Regions from separate parts of the Homo sapiens genome. Here all the other regions are linked to region 3. The links come from fine-mapping of genetic effects on gene expression. A gene starts in region 3. Each other region holds a variant in brackets. All regions are shown on one strand. Distances are between the middles of the regions. Region 1 has its middle 27 kb from the start of YWHAZ. Region 2 overlaps SLEAR (STAT1 regulated ILF2 complex interacting lncRNA). Region 3 holds the start of YWHAZ (tyrosine 3-monooxygenase/tryptophan 5-monooxygenase activation protein zeta).

The links. PIP is the estimated chance that this variant, and not a neighbour inherited with it, causes the effect.
Region 1: its variant is the best candidate, but not a certain one, in a credible set for the expression of YWHAZ in whole blood (INTERVAL, PIP 0.85).
Region 2: its variant is the best candidate, but not a certain one, in a credible set for the expression of YWHAZ in monocytes (TOPMed, PIP 0.81).

The regions. Positions count from the first base shown.
Region 1 is chr8:100,975,869-100,981,547 of GRCh38, forward strand. No RefSeq gene overlaps it. Among named protein-coding and RNA genes, the nearest start is that of YWHAZ, 27 kb to the left of the region's middle. The variant C/T (reference allele first, on the strand shown) is at 2,510.
Region 2 is chr8:101,070,807-101,076,485 of GRCh38, forward strand. SLEAR (STAT1 regulated ILF2 complex interacting lncRNA) reads left to right here. Exons shown (of 3, transcript NR_033962.1): 3 at 4,363-5,445. Among named protein-coding and RNA genes, the nearest start is that of SLEAR, 22 kb to the left of the region's middle. The variant A/G (reference allele first, on the strand shown) is at 2,973.
Region 3 is chr8:100,949,718-100,955,396 of GRCh38, forward strand. It overlaps YWHAZ (tyrosine 3-monooxygenase/tryptophan 5-monooxygenase activation protein zeta), which reads right to left and starts at 2,303. Exons shown (of 6, transcript NM_145690.3): 1 at 2,212-2,303. RefSeq lists enhancers at 508-567, 682-1,541, 1,168-1,247, 2,400-3,258, 3,538-3,647 and 1 more and silencers at 828-1,047, 1,438-2,207, 2,438-2,697, 2,718-3,397.

The sequences.
Region 1 (5,679 bases), 26 kb after region 3:
GGAGAGTATCCTCTGAATTTGAAAGTGATAATGCTGATGATTATTGTGTTTTTGTATAATAAAAGTGGGTAAAAGATGAGGATTGACCCTGAACCTCTAAGAACTGTCCCTTGAGTCTCAGTTTTGGCCGACTTGTATAAACTTTGAACATGTCCAGCTTGCCTCTGCACCTCTGTGATTATTTTTCCCATAGCAGGAGCTGTCACCTCTCTCTCTCTCTCTCTCTCTGTCTTTCTTTCTTTCTTTCTTTCTTTCTTTCTTTCTTTCTTTCTTTCTTTCTTTCTTTCTTTCTTTCCTTTCTTTCTTTCTTTCTTTCTTTCTTTCTTTCTTTCTTTCTTTCTTTCTTTCTTTCTTTCTTTCTTTCTTTCTTTCCTTCTTTCTTTCTTTTTGAGATGGAGACTCACTCTTGTCGCCCAGGCTGGAGTGCAATGGCACAATCTCGGCTCACTGCAACCTCTGCCTCCCGGGTTCAAGTGATTCTCGTGCCTCAACCTCCTGAGTAGCTGGGATTACAGGCGCCCACCACCATGCCTGGCTAATTTTTGTATTTTTAGTAGAGACGGAGTTTCACCATGTTGGCCAAGCTGGTCTCAAACTCCTGACCTCAGGTGATTCCTCTGCCTCAGCCTCCCAAATTGCTGGGTGTAAGCCACTGTGCCCAACCACATCTCTCATTTTTGAATGCCAGGCTGATCTGTCTGCTTCACTTTCATGGTCTTCCAAAAAACTGTCAGGCTACCCAAAGTAGCCTGAAGTGATTATTGTCTATATGTTTTTCTGCATCATTTTGCTCCCTTTGAACTCAGTTCCAAAAAGATGGAGTGATTCGTGAAGTGAATTTCTACTTTTGCTTTGCCATAAAATAGTCCTACTATCTGTTCTTTCACTCATTCATTCATTTGTTCATCCAGTTTCCTCCCTGTCTCCACTCCCATTGCCACTGCATGTATCCTGCCCAACACAGTTCAAATGTAGTGAGAAGGTAGGTGTACTTTAGGACCTTTGTGATTCAGCCTGCCCTTACTGTTAATTATGACTTAGTATTTTTAATCATGTCACTCAAGAAACCAGATGTGACACTTAAATGTAGCTTGGATAGGATAAGGATAAGACAAGATAGAATAAGGGATAATTACTTGCTTTGCAGAGGATTCTTTTTAATTTTTAATTTTTAAAAAATAAAAGTATTGGCCAGGTTCGATGGCTTATGCCTGTAATCTCAGCACTTTAAGAGGGAAAGGTGGGTGGATCGCTTGAGCCCAGGAGTTCAAGACCAGCCTGGGCAACGTGATAAAACAACATCTCTATGAAAAATACAAAAAATTATCCAGGCGTGGTGGTGCATGCCTGTAGTCCCAGCTACCGGGGGGCACTGAGGTGGGAAGATCACCTGAGCCTGGGAGGTCGAGGCTGCAGTGACCTATGATTGCACCACTGCACTCCAACCTGGGTAATGGAGTGAGACCCTGTCTCAAAAAACATAAATAAATAAAATAAAATAAAAATTAAAACTATTCACCACAGGGTCATCTCAGAATGTCTCCATGATGCATTTAAACTCTGTGATTTACAATACTTAAATTTATACTTCATTTTCTCAAAAGCTAGCTATCAAGTTAAGTAGACATATGTCCTGAAATAATTGTTATTTATAATTATAGGTTACACATCGTGATAGCTTTACTTTTTTTGCATAAACATGGCTGAAAATACATGAAAAAAATGAAGAAACACTGAAGTACAACTTAAAAGAAGCCAAAAGACTCTCAAAATAAGGAATGATCATCAAAAACAATCTGTCACTTTACTTTGCACAAATAACAACAGAACTCAATTTTACACTAAGGATAAATAAGATGTAGTGAACATGACTTTTGAGTATGATACTTATGTAAAGTAACGGTGGAGCAGACATTATACATCCCCATTTGGGGGAAGGAGGGAACTGGCCATGTCTTTCTTCCTTTCTTTCTTTCTTTCTTTTCTTTCTCAGGGTCTCAATCTGTTCCCCTGGCTGAGTGTAGTGGCAAGATCATGGCTCACTGCAGCCTCAAGCTCCCAGGCTCAAGTGATCCTCTCACCTCAGTCTCCTGAGCAACTGGGACTACAGGTGGAAGTCACCATGCCCAGCTAACTTTTTATTTTTTGTAGAGATGGGGGTCTCACTACATTGTCCAGATTTGTCTCAAACTCCTAGACCCAAGCAATCCTCCCACCTCAGCCTTCCAAAGTGCTGGCGTGAGCCAATTTTTATATTTATTTATTTATTTATTTATTTTTCAAAATGGAGTTTCGCTCTTGTTGCCCAGGCTGGAGTGCAATGGCACGATCTCGGCTCACCGCAACCTCTGCCTCCAGGGTTCAAGTGATTCTCCTGCCTCAGCCTCCAGAGTAGCTAGGATTACAGGCATGAGCCACTATGCCCTGCTAATTTTGTATTTTTAGTAGAGACAGGGTTTCTCCATGTTGGTCAGGCTGGTCTTGAACTCCCGACCTGAGGTGATCTGCC[C/T]GCTTCAGCCTCCCTAAGTGCTGGGATTACAGGTGTGAACCACCGCACCTGGTTTACCTGGCCAATTTTTAAATGTTTTAAGTAGCTATTATTTTCACATAATTCAAAATTCAAAAGCTATAATACAATATGCAGTTAAAAGTCTCCCTTTCAGAAATAGACCCACATAAAAACAGTCACCTGATTTTTTTTTTTTTTTTTTGAGATGAAGTCTCACTGTGTCGCCTAGGCTGGAATGCAATGGTGCAATCTTGGCTCACTGCAAACTCTGCCTCCTGGGTTCAAGCGATTTTCCTGCCTCAGCCTCCTGAATAGCTGGGGTTACAGGTGCACACTACCATGCAAGGCTAATTTTTGTACTTTTAGTAGAGACTAGGTTTTGCCATGTTGACCAGCTGGTCTTGAAATCCTGACCTCAAGTGATCTGCCTGCTTTGGCCTCCCAAAGTGCTGGGATTACAGGCTTGAGCCACTGCACCCGGCAAGTCAACTGATTTTTAACAAAGGAGCAAAGACAATACAGTGGAGAAAAGAGAGTCTTTTCAATAAGAGTGTTGGAACAACTGGGCATCCATGTGCAAAAAAAAAAGAAAAAGAATCTAGACACAGACTTTATACCTTTTACAAAAATTAGTTCAAAGTGAATCACACACCTAAATGTAAACTAAAATAGTATAAAACTCCTAGAAGATAAGAAAGGAGGAAATCGAAATTTCCTCTAAATCTAAAATCCATTTGGGGGAAGGAGGGAACTGGCCATGTCTTTCTTCCTTGGGTTTGGCAATGACCTTTCAGATATGACATCAAAGGCATGATCCATGAAGAAAAAATTGATAAGCTGGATGTTATTAAAAATCTCTGCCCTGTGAAAAGCACTGTTAAGAGAATAAAAAGCCACAGACTTGGAAAAAAGTTGCAAAAGACATTATCTGATAAGGAACTTTTATCCAAAATGTACTCTTAAAGCTCAACAATAAAAAAACAAACAACTGGCAGGGTGCAGTGGCTCATGCCCGTAATCCCAGCACTTTGGGAGGCCGAAGCAGGTGGATCACCTGAGGTCGGGAGTTCAAGACCAGCCTGACCAACATGGCGAAACCCTGTCTCTACTAAAAATACAAAAATTAGCCGAGCATGGTGGAGGGCGCCTGTAATCCCAGCTACTCTACTCAGGAGGCTGAGGCAGGAGAATCGCTTGAACCCGGAAGGCAGAGGTTACAGTGAGCTAAGATCATGCCACTGCACTCCAGCCTGGGCAAAAAGAGTGAGACTCTGTCAAAAAAACAAAACAAAACAAAACAAACCTGACTATAAAATGGACTAAAGACCTTAACAGAAACTTCACCAAAGAAGGTATACAGATGGCAAATAAGCATTATGAAAGGATACTCCACATCATGTGTCATCAGGGAAATGCCAATTAAAATAACAATGAGATCTCACTATATACCTATTAGAATGGCCAAAGTCCAGAACCCTGACAAAACTAAAGGACCAAGATGTCCTTTGATAGGTGAAATTGATTGATAGATAAACTGTGGTCCATTGAGACAATGGAATATTATACAGTATTAAAGAGAAATGAGCTATCAGCCATGAAGAGAAGTGGAAGAAACTTAAACGTGTATTTCTCTTTAGGGAAGACTTTTTTTTTATTGTCTCCTGTATCCTTGCACCTGGGAATGGTGCCTAGTGCTAGGTAGGTGCTTAATAAATATTTGTCAAGTAGGGCATGCTGGCTCATGCCTGTAATCCAAGCACTTTGGGAGGACAAGGTGGGAGAATTGCTGAAGCCCAGGAGTTCTATACCAGCCTGGGCAACAGAGGGAGACATCTGTGTATGGGTTGTTGTGTAAACATAAACGTTCAACTCTTTTGGTAAATACTAAGGAGTGTGATTGCCGGATTGTATAAGAGTATGTTTAGTTTTTAGCTGGATGTGGTGGCATGTGCCTGTAGTCCTAGCTACTTGGGAGGCTGGGCTGGGAGGATTATTTGAGCCCAAGAGGTTTCCTGAACAAGGTAGAAACCATATGACTCTCTTGAGAAAGCTTTTGGGCCAGAGGGAACAGGAAATGTAAAGGCATATTCTAGGAAGACTTGTTTCTTTGACTGATCTACTGTCAGGGTAACTTCTGTTCCTTTTCCAAAGAAAGACTCAAGGGAGAAATCACCTTCTCAGTGTTGTATTTAATAAGAGGTTAAACGTGAGTTGGTCATGGTGCCATCTTTTTTCATACCTAGCAACAATCTGTATTAATTGGACCATTTACTTTTAAGAAAGGATTATTTTGGCTGGGCGCGGTGGCTCATGCCTGTAATCCCAGAAGTTTAGGGTGCCAGGGCGGGTGGATCACAAGGTCAGGAGTTCAAGACCAACTTGGCTAAAATGGTGAAACCCCATCTCTACTAAATATACAAAAATTAGCTGGGTGTGGTGGCGGGCGCCTGTAATCCCAGCTACTCGGTAGGGTGAGGCAGGAGAATCGCTTGAACCTGGGAGGCGGAGGTTGTGGTGAGCCGATATTGTGCCACTGCACTCCAGCCTGGGTGACAGAGTGAGACTCTATCTCAAAAAAAAAAAAAAGAAAAAAAGGATTATTTTATGTATAAATATATTTTGCTTAACTAAGAACTTTTTTGAAAAAATAATGTACATGTTGATTGGATTTTTGTAAGCCAAATATTTTGAAAACATTGTATCATTTTTTAGCATCTCTGGACCCAGCTAGTATTGTGAGTACTTCTACTCTCTTTTCAGTGACAACCTTAGAGCAGTAGCTCTTAAGTGGGGGCAATATTGTACCCCAGGGGACATTTGGCAAATTTGGTGACATTTTTGGTTGTGACAACTTTGTTGGAGGAAGGGGTTGCTTCTGGCAGCTAGTGGGTAGAGACCAGGGATACTGCTAAACATCCTCCTACAATGAACAGGGCCACCCACCCTCCCCCACAAAATATTATGTGACCTCAAAGAAAAATAGTGCTGAGGTGGAGAAATATTGCTCTAGGATCTAAAACTTACAGAACAGAGGAGAGGACTGTGGCACATGCATCCTATCAGGTTAAAACAGAGGGTGTCAGCCAGGCATGGTGACTCATGCCTGTAATCCTAGCATGTTGGAAGGCTGAGACAGGAGGATCACTTGAGCCCAGGAGCTCAAGACCAGC
Region 2 (5,679 bases), 120 kb after region 3:
GTCATTCATTCACTCACTCATTCATTCAATCAATCAGTCAACCAGTTGGTCAGTCAACAGACATATCTCAGGCACACGTGCCAGGCATTAGTATCTATGGGTGGAGGCTGTTAAGTAAGCTGATTTTCATTTTCATTTAGTCTCAGAGTTTCCGAACAGTTCATTTCACTCCCAAAAGGAGTGCACTTGCAGTCTTCTCTCGGGGAAAATGTCTGATTATCTGAGCCAGCAAAGGCAGCTGGGATGCCCTGGAGGTTTCCTGCATCCTGCCGGGCTTGGCCAAGATGACACCAGGGGCTCTCGCCGATGCTGAGATTCCATGGTTTTGTTGTTATAATTTTTAACGTAATTGAATAGACACGAAGGAAGGACTGTGGTCCCTAAATTAGATTTTCCCCCTTAACTCCCAAGTGATCAATTCCAGTAAAGTCAAGGCCAGACAGGCTCCCTGACTCACGACTCACGCTGAGCTCTGCCTTCTCTCCAGTGTTTGACTACCTGAGAGCTGTCTAGATTGAGCTGAAGGAATTCAGAAAAGGGCAGTATGAATTCTTCAGCGTGGAGGCCGACTTTGTGGAGAGGAGGCAGGGCCTATGTCGATGCTGCTCGCTCTATTTTCAGGGCTTGGCACCATTCATCCTCAAAAAGGCTACGGGTCCTCACTCAGAATTAAAGGTAATGATTAAAAATTACGGGCAGGACAGGCCAGGTGCGGTGGCTCACGCCTCTAAGCACTATGGGAGGCCGAGGTGGGCAGATCACGAGGTCAGGAGTTCGAGACTAGCCTGGCCAATATAGTGACACCCCATCTGTATTAAAAATACAAAAATTAGCCGGGCGTGGTGGTGTGCTCCTGTAGTCCCAGCTACTTGGGAGGCCGAGGCAGAAGAATCACTTGAACCCGGGAGGCAGAGGTTGCAATGAGCCGAGATCATGCCACTGCACTCTAGCCTGGAGGACAGAGCGAGACTCCATCTCAAAAAAAAAAAAAAAAAAAAATTATGGACAGGACAAAAAGGCAGAAATCAAGCACAAGGCTAGTTTCTCATCGGAGATCCTGCAGCCTCGCTGAGTCACACCAGGCAGAAGGAAGCAGAGTTTCACTTCAGGCCACATCGGTTCGCTCTAACAGGCAGGTTTTGGCATCCCCACGAGGCGTGTCTGCACTCTGGGAACCTGCGAGAGTAAGCTCCATGCTGGCTACCCTGATAATGTGAACCCTCTGCCTGCTGCCCCAGCTGCACTGGTTGCTGGGGAAAGCCTGCGTTTTGGGTGTGCCTAGGGCCAGGGCTCAGACCATTATCTCCCTGCAGCCTTGCATGCCTTCCCTTGCCTGGCTACCATTCTCATCAGAAAAAGCAGGATTCTTGCTTTAAGTCCTGGTGATTTACATGGAGAATAATAAGTTCTGGTTTAATCATCCCTCCAAAGATGAAGAAATTCTCCACCGAGCCCACTCTTCTCTTGACTTCTGTTCAGAAATCAAGTATTAATATAAATCGAAGCTCTCTCCTTCCTCCCATGCCAGAGGCTGTTCTGCAAAGCTGCCATTCATAGGGAGAACTGGCGATGAAGTGTCTGTCAAAAGGACTGTTTTTACAATTGGGACCTGCCTGTAGTGGTGATGAGGTAATTTCTTCTTAAGCTTCTGGTATCCAAGGAGAGAAAAAAGAACAGCAAAACAAGCTCTGTTAATAAAGGTGTGAGAGTCTTTGGGTGTTTGCTGTTATTAAAGAGACCTTAAGGAAGGCTGCTTCTGAGCTAAAAGCAAACTTTTGTCAAAGGTTCATTTTAGAAGGTTCAAAAGACACCAGAGAGAGAGAGAACAAGAGGCAGGAAGAGGCAGGCACAGAGAGAGGGGATGAGAGGAAGAGAGGGAGCGGGCAGGAGAGCCACGCTGTGCTGGGAGTCACACATGCGGGCTTGGGCAGTTTGATCACTGGAAAAATGTTTTCTGTTAAGGGTTGGTGCAATGGAAGAGAGAAATCTCTCGATTTTTTTTTTTAGGATGTGCTTTTGCTGCTGCTGCTCTGTCCGCCTAGAATGCTCTTTTCTGCCCATCTTTAACCCATCTTTTCTAAATGGCTCAGTTCAAATGGCCCCTCCTCTGTGAAGCCTTCTTTGATATCCCCAGTGAGATACATAATTGTTTCACCTTCTGTAAGTCAATAGTAGTTTTTTTCTTTAAAATTTTTGTATTTATTTTTATTTTATTTAATTAATTAATTTATTTTTGACACAGAATTTTGCTCTTGTCCTCCAGGCTGGAGCGCAATGGTGCGATCTTGGCTCACTGCAACCTCTGCCTCCCAGGTTCAAGCAATTGTACCTGCTTCAGCCTCTCCAGTAGCTGGGATTACAGGCATCTGCCACCACACCCAGCTAATTTTTGTATTTTTTTTTAGCAGGGATGGGGTTTCACCATGTTGGCCAGGCTGGTCTCGAACTCCTGACCTTGGGTGATCCACCAGCCTCGGCCTCCCAAAGTTCTGGGATTATAGGCATGAGCCACCGCGCCTGGCCTATTTTTATTTTTTGAGACAGAGTCTCTCTCTGTCACCCAGGCTGGAGTGCAGTGGCATGATCTTGGCTCACTGCAACCTCCACCTCCCAGGCTCAAGAGATTCTCACGCCTCAGCCTCCTGAGTAGCTGGGACTATAGGCATGTGCCACCATACCTGGCTAATTTTTGTATTTTTAGTAGAGACAGGGTTTCACCATGTTGGCCAGGCTGGTCTTGAACTCCTGACCTCAAGTGATCCACCCGCCTCAGCCTCCAAAAGTGCTGAGATTACAGGCATGAGCCACCATGCCCGGCCCAAAATTTTTATTTTTAATTGTGGTAGAATACACATAAGATAAAATTTACCATCTTCAATGTTTCTATGTGTACATTTCAGCAGTGTTAAGTGTATCCACATTGTTGTGCAACCACCCTCCAGAACTTTCTCATCTTGCAAAACTGAAACTTT[A/G]TCCATTAAAAAACAACTCTCTATTTCCCAATCCCCTCAGTCCCTGCAACTACCATGTTATTTTCTGTCTCTTAACTACTGTAGGTACCCGGTAAGTGAAGTCATACAATAGTAGTCTTTCTGTGACTGGTTTATTGCACTTCATATGATGTCCTCAAGGTTTACCCATGTTGTAGCATGCGTCAAAATTTCTTTCCTTTTCAAGGAATAGTAATTTAATTTAATTTTTAAATGGCATTTATAACATGCTGTCTTATTTTTAAGCTATGTGTGCATATTATATCTCCCCTGTGGAATTTGAAATTCTGAGTTTCTCTCCCTTTGGAGTCCCATTGTACCTACAGCCCAGTGCTTGGCAGAGAGTTTGTGCTAAAGAACATTAGTTGAGAGCATCAAAAGACCAATGCTACCTTATTGTCTTGAGTGGGCACTCCTAGACCTCTCTCTCCTTCCATACCATACCCCCAAAAGGCTCAACAGCAATGTTTTGTTTGTTTGTTTTCTTACAGACAGGGTCTTACTCTGTCACCCGGGCTGTAAAGTAGTGGCATGATCATAGCTCATGGCAACCTTGAACTGTTGGGCTCAAGCAATCCTCCTACCTCAGCCTCCCGAAGTGCTGGGACTACAGGTGTGCACCACCACACCCAGCTAATTTTTAAAGTTTTTTGAGAGATAGGGTCTTGCTATGTTGCCCAGACTGGTCTCAAACTCCTGGTCTCAAGCAATCTTCCTGCCTCAGCCTCCCTAAGTGCTTGGATTATAGGCATGAGCCACCATGCCTGGCATCTAGGGCAATTCAACCTAGTCCATGTTGTCAAGGGGAGATGAGCACAAAGGGATTGGTATCAGCAATTTTAGGCTTGTCTTAGCCTTGAACGAGGCCCTCATCTTCTCCTGGCTTGAGCCTCTGCTTCCTTTTGGGAAACACATTTGAAACACCTTTCCTGAAACAGAAAAGCTGACCCAATCTTAAAAGAACAGAAGGCCAGGACAGAAAGAGTGAGGAGTGCAGGAGACAAGTCATGCAAGAATGGAAGCTAGTATTTAGATTTTTTATCCTGTTAACTTTCTGGATGTGTGTGTCATCCTTGTTAGTAGGCATCTTCTGATAAAGGTGGGGTTGGTAATGGGGTGGGGGTCAGGGGACTGTGGAAGTCTTGCTATTAATCATACTAAGCATCTTTTCTCACCTTCTTCCCCCAAGTCGTCCCTGTGGAAGATTTGCCTATTATGCAACTCAGGAACAATAAGGGAAGCCTGGCTAAAATTTGGCTTAGAATCTTGGAGAACTAACTGTAACTTTATGCTTGGTCTGTAATAGCTATTTTTGGAGTTACTTTAGTTAGCTTGGCTCCTAACCCTGCCCTTTCCCTTTGTTCTCCTACAGCCATTTGTAAGAGAGGATCATGGAATGAATACGGGCATTGAGTCAAGCAGTCTGTGTTCCACTGGCGGTGTGACCTGGGGCAGGCCATTTCACCTCACTGAGCCTTAGTTTCCTCACCTGTAAAATGTGAAAAATATCACCTTCCTTACCAGGCTTTTCTGAGGATTTAATGACATCATGTTCAGTGCCCAGTATGGGTGGATAATACCCAGGAGTTTCCTCCTCTTCTCCTCCTAAGTTGACTTGATGCCCCCCGCTGAAGATCATGGCTGAACTGGCTCAATTCGGATCCAGGACTCCTGGCTTTGTCTCTTCCCTAGTTGCCCACCACACCCATGGACACCCTTAGGTAGTTTATCCTTTTGGGACAACTGGATTTATTAGAAAAGGGTATTCTGGGGTGGAATAAGGCCCTTTTCAGTCCCCATGGAGCCTTTTTGGAAGATGAAGTTCTCAAACCCACAAGAGAATTCATAAGACGAGCACACCACCCACAGTTAGGTTTCCCTCTCAAGTGCTTTATCTCCACGTGGGGCAAATAGCTCTTTGTCTGCATATGTTATTGGAGCTTTTGGAGTCCAGCCTTCAGAAGAGCTCTAATTTTTGGATTCATATCAGTTTATTAGAGAAGCCTAGTTCTAAGGATTAGCAAATGGGTAGGTGCTCAGCCAGCCCAGAACAAGCAGAGCCATGACAGAAGTTTCTGGAATCTCACAGAGTCGGTGTCTTCATGGACTCAGGGGGCCTAAATCCAATAGCCTGGATTTGTCACTTTCCCTTATTCCCTTATCAAACTCTTCCCTTTTGGACATCAGAGAAGGAAAGTACTTCCTGTAAGGGGGCAATTTGCAAAGCTTCATGGAAGTGGCATTTGAGTGTGGCCTTAAAGGATGTGTAGGATTGGGAACCATAGATATTTAGAGGAAGGCATTCCTGGCAGAAGGAACAGCAGCAAAACACAGAAGTGGAAATTAGTAGCAGCATTAATGGAGAATAATTTGGGGAATAAGATATACAAATGGAATAATAAAAATAGCATTAATTAAACATTGTGGGAGTCATTCTGTAAGATGGCCCCTGGTGATCTCCGCCTCCTGTTCTTCATGCCTTATGTAACCGCTCTCCTTGAGTGTGGTCTGGAATTACTGACTCACTTTCAATGCACAGAATGTATCAGAAGTAATGGGATATTCCTTCTGAGAATAGATTATAAAAAAAGAGTGTGGCTTCCTTCCTGGCATTTTCGCTTGCTCTCTCTTTAATTGTGTGCTCCAAACAAAGCCAGCTGCCATGTTGTGAGGAAGCCCTGTGTGGAGG
Region 3 (5,679 bases):
AGAAGTGCTGCATTTTGCTTCTAGCCATCATAATGTAATTGGATGTTACCACTCAAGCTGTCCTTTACCATGACTACCCATCTAATTCTCTTTCCCTCGCATTTTAGTTTCCTGGACCTTTTCGATTTACCTCAGCTACATTTTTCTGGAAAGATACCCTTTTGCAAGTTGCCGAACAGCACAAAGATACTAATCCACACAGTGACACCACAGAATAAATGACTTCAGAGGAAAATACACACCCTGAATGAAGTGCACTTTTAAGTTAGAAGGTGAACAGAAGAGTCCACCTTGGCAGCTGGCTCCCGAATATTAATCATCTTTTACCTTCCCAGGGAAATCCCACAATATTTTTTTAACCAAATGAGAGAACAGGTCGCCACATTTTAAACAAATAATTAACCACTTTGGATGCAAGGTACTGGCTCAATACGTAAACTATTTAACCTTTATGACGGCATTATTTTCGTCAGGTCTCTAAATTACTGATTTTTCCCTTAGGATCTCAGAAACGCTCTCTGGTTATTTCTGCTTCTAACAAAAAATGATTTAAGCCAGTACAAAGGATTCTCTCCCCAATCACTTCGGTACAAGAGGAAGTGGATAAGGTTTCTCACACAGTAACGAGTGCTCCAAGGCCTCGCCTCTACACTGCGGGCAGGACTCACCGCACCCATTTAACCCTTACCTGACTTGAGACGTCGGTTACTGTGAAACGAAAACGGGCAGACCCGGACTTTAAAGTGCAAATTCTCCGGTCCGCGTATCGCAACCACCCCCCTCCAGGCTCCGCCCAAGTCGGAGCCACGGCTCAAGTCCCCGACTCTCCTCCTTTGTCATGGCGGATCTGTGTCAGGGAGCCCAACCTACTGCAGAGTGTTAATTCCTCCCCCCGACCGGAGCCAGAGGGAGGAGCAGCCCGCGCCCCCGCCCAAGCCGTGGGGGGGGGGGAGAGATGGGGAGCGAAGCCGCCCGACCCCGGGGCAGAGACGCCACAGCAGCCCGCAGAAGCGGAACCACTACCAGCCCCGCCGCGGACACACCCCGCTCTCCCACCCAGCGCCTTCCCCGCCACCGATCAGCGCCGGTGACCGTGTACAGCGTCTCTAAGGGACCGACAGCTGCAGGTGGGGGAGGGGACGAGAGCCACACCCAGCCGAGCGGGCCACCAGCGGCTATGCTCAGGCTCACCCGCCCCCAAAGCAGGATATGCGTCCCCAAACCGAGCGCAGGGACCCTCCAGTTCTAGTCCATCAAGCACGGGAGCCGACTGCGGGCTCACCACCCTGTTCTCTACCCCGACCTGGACTTGCAGCCCCCGTCCACACCTCCCCCGCCCGTTCACAAGGAGCAAAAAAAGTCAGACCCATCCCCCACCCCCACCAGGAAAATTCAAGTCCTTCCTCCCACCGCGGAGCCCAGGAAATTCAGCTCTAGGTCCCAGGCGAGCCCCACCCCAAAACCTCACCCCGCAGTGGACTCCCCTCCCGCCGGCGCGCAGCCTCGCCCCGGTCTACCTGGCGGGCGCCGCCGCGCCAGGCCTGGGCTCCGGCCCGCTCTCGGCCAGGCCTTTCCCTCGCGCTTGGGTCCCCGAGGCCCCCGGCCCCTCCCCGCCGCGCCACCGCCTCCCGGGGTGGGGGAGGGCCGGGTCCCGCCGCCGCAGCGCCCAGCGCGGAGGCTGCGCGAGGGGGAGGGAAAGGAGGGGGCGGCCGAGGGAGAGGGGAGGGGGCGGCCTCACCTGCGCCACTGCGATGCCCGCCGCCGCCGCCGCCGAGTCATTATCTCGGGCGGAAGCGAGAAGGGCGGCGAGGGAGGGGGTGGAAGCCCGCAGAGACAAGGGTGGGGATGGATCGCGGCCGGCGGCGCCCCGGCCATGCCTCGTCCACCTTCGGGAGCCGGCGACAGGGAGATCCCCAGGGATCTCGCGTGTGGGCGCCCTACCCACCCCCGGGGGCAGGACGGGGGAGCGAGCACCGATCGGCGCCGGGGCGTCGATGCGGAAGCAAGGAGCCGGAGGCGGCCGCTAGCCGCCCTCCCGAGCCCAGCGGAAGAGGAGCCGCCGCCCGTGTCCGCTGAGGAGACTCCGCCTCAGCCCGGCGCCGCCACCGCGGGGCGAGTGGGGATGAGGGGACGGAGCGAGGACGGCTCCCACGCGTTCGGAAGGCTGGCCTGGGACAGGAAGCGAGGCGCGGCGGCGGCCGGGTTCCTCACCTGTGTCCGGAGTGGGTGGTGGCGGCGGACGGACGGGCTCAGCAGTCTCTGGGCGGCGGCGGCGGCAGCAGCGGCGAGGCTGAGACTCTGTCCCTGGATCTCGCTGCTCACAGGCTACAGCCGCTCCGCAGACACGGGGTTTCCTCCAATCACCAGCCCCGGCAGCAGGGGCACCACACGCACGATGACGTCAAACGCTGCTATGGCAACCGTTGATTGGTGCCCACAGCGATCGGGGCCCCGCGTAACCGCCGCTCCCCGGCGCTCGTCCTGCCCGCCCGCGCTGGAGGGCGAGCGGAGGCGCGCGCGTCCTCGCCCGCAGCCGCCACTCCTCCCACCCCGCTCGGCTTCCAGCTCCTCTACGCTTGTCCCGAGTGCACCTAGGGCAGGAGGCTGCTTTTTTCCTTTTCCTCCCCAACGCAAATCCCCCACTCCTCGCCTTCCCTTTGGGTCCCCAACGCCCTCTCTCTCCCTCTCCCCTGCAGCCTCTGCCGGCCCACTCTTCCTCTCAGCCGGCGGGAAGGCGTTCTCTCCCTACCCCCACCTTAGCTTTCGCTCAGCCCGTCTGCGCTTGCCCCAGTCACTCCCTCTGGAAGGGGCTCCCGTTCAGCAACATCCGGGACCTTTCACATCCCCCCACCCCTCCCCGAGGCCCGGCCCGCCCCACCCTCCGTGCTTCGCGGTAGTAACTGCCCCAGGGCCGTCCCCGGGCAGGATGACAAGGGTGGCTCGGCGGCTCCGGCATTGTGATCAGGACTTGCGGGGCGGGGGCCCCGGGGCGGGGGCAGGGCGCGGTCGCACGGCAAGGGAGGGTTGTGTGTGGTGCGCTGCCCCCCGCCCCGCCCGCCGCTCCCCTTCCCCGGCTGGGCCGACCGGGGCGCGCGGCCCCTCCCGGCCTCCCTCCCGCCGCCGCGGCTTTACCTGCTGGCTCGGGGGAAGCGGTCCTAGACCTTTTATGGCTCGGAAACGGGAGTGAGGCGTCCAGCCCCTGAGTGTGGCTGAGTGATGGGGAGGCGTTCCAATCGAGAGCGCGGGATCTGCGCTCGGTGACTGCGCGAGGGGACAATGGGTGGGCGCCGAGGTGGGGGCGAGGTGGGCCGGGCCGGGCGGAGCCGGCAGGAGGTGAGGCCTGGAAGGAGGCGCGGCCGCTTTAGGGAAGCCAGAGTTCCGAGGGGAAAGGACAGCCTTCTCGGGCGGAGGGCTGGAGCTGGTCCTGGCAGCCTTGACCCGGAGACAGGCAGTCAGGCGTGACCGCACGGACCCGTTTCTCGTAGGCTAGGTTTTCCTACCCAAATAAAGCTTTCACGTGAAGACCTCATACTGCACATGACGATCATTACCTTTTTATCTCCTAGAAGCAAGGTTTGAGGGACGTCGTAGTCCCCAGGGTTCCAGCTGGCGGTGGGAGTGGGCCACAGGCCGGGTGATGAGCCGGGACGGGAGCCCGGAAGAAGGGGAAGGAGAAAGGCGGAAATTGCAGGTGCCTGAACCGGTAGGGCCTCCGCCCAGTTGACTTCAGGAAGTTCAGAGAGAAACATTCACAGTGTGAATGATCTCTGCCCCTTCCCTCTTTAAATGTGTTCGGGCTAAGAAAAGATTAGTGCTTGGATGACCTGCAAAACCACTTGCAACAGCCATGGAGAGTGTACGGTTAGCAATGAGAGAGCTTGGAACTCTTCATTTTACTCTTGTGTAAACTCCCCATTGATTCTTCCAACGTATCTTTATTGAGCTGACCAGAGCCTCCGTTTAGCCTCATGTTCTCTACAGAATTTAGTTTCTCAGTAGTAGACACGAAATGATTGAGTCCTCGCTCTTCCAGTACATTGTCTTTCCTACATAATACAGTGGACCACAAGGCTGCTCTACAAATTACTTTTTGCCTGACATGACAGCTGGCATTTAGATAGTACAGACCAGAAAGAGGGTTTCCAGTGACCAGTTATATTTTAGTGGGTTTTTTTGTTGTTGCTTTTCACAAGTTGCCAAATCACAGACTCATGGTAGGTTAAATGGATAAACAAATTGGAGTTTTATTTCTGAGATGTTAGGGTCAACTAGCTTTGACTCCCAAGTAAATTCTTTTAGGGCGTGACTCACTTAAAATGAGTAATATTTCAAAAGCTATTTTTTTTACAGTTTTTTCGTAGGCACCAGAAATTTGACAGAGGATACTAAGTTAAACGTTTTTTTAAAATGGAAATTGATGTTTCTTTAATGTCTCAAATATATGTCTATGTAGAGTATATGCCTTTTGTTTTAGAGGAAGTTAAGGGGTTTTTCTGTATAAATATGGATTTACTTCAGGAAACAGCTAAGTTAGGCTTTTGCCTCATGCTTTAATAGCAAGGCATTTTTTAGTGCAACAATAGGCACTGTTAGGTTTTACATACTCAAGTCAATGTGTCTGCACAATAAAGATATAATGAAGCTGCAAGAAAGGAACGGGATGTTATGAAAGCCCTGAGGAAAAGATCTTTTAAGAAATAAGGAATAACCTGTGGCATACAGAGCAGAATAAATAGAACCTATGAACCCTGGGAACTTTGCTGGAGACTTTCACTAATACCCTGACCTGTATTTTCTTCAATGCGCAACTCTTACCTCACTCAAGTTGGTTAACCTCTATGTGCTTTGATAGCCACGGCAATAAAATACTGGCAACAAAAACACTTAACTCATCAGGTGATGCTGAGGATTAAACGAATATACACATACATATATTTCTTAGAGTAACCTAGCTATTATTCATTTGTAAATGGATATATCTGATTGATATCTCTAGTGTTCAAAAGATTGTAAAGATAAAATGAAACTATTTTCTTTTTGATTTTTAGGAAACTTCAGTAGCAGAAAGAAACCATATTTTTAAAGTATCTTTTAGAAATAGAAATGCCTATTTGTGTTTCTTAGTGCTGAGACATGAGTGATGAGGGTGAATATTGATTCATTCCTCTATAGGGGACTGCAATGATCTCTTCAAAGCTATACATCAATATATAATGCTATACATTAAAATGAGAAAAAGCCCAGGCACAGTGGTTCACTCTCATTATCTCAGCACTTTGGGAGGCAGGCAGATAGCTTGAGTCCACGGGTTCAAGACCAGCCTGGGCAACATGGCAAGACCCCTTCTCTACAAAAAATACAAAAAGTAGCTGGACATGGTGGCATGTGCCTGCGGTCCCAGCTACTGGGGAGGCTGAGGTGGGAGGATCATTTGAGCCCGGAAGGTAGAGGCTGCAGTTAGCTGTGATTGTGTCACTACACTACAGCCTGGGCAACAAAGCGAGACCCTGTCTCAAAAATGAAACACTAAAATGGGAAAGAGTTTAAGTGAATTAGCACAAGTCCATCCCTCCAATTGGGAAAACATCTCCAAGGATGGACTCTGTTGATGATGTGGCAGTTATATGATATTTTAAGTGTAATCACAATTCTGTCAGGCTATAATTTCACTTCACTGTG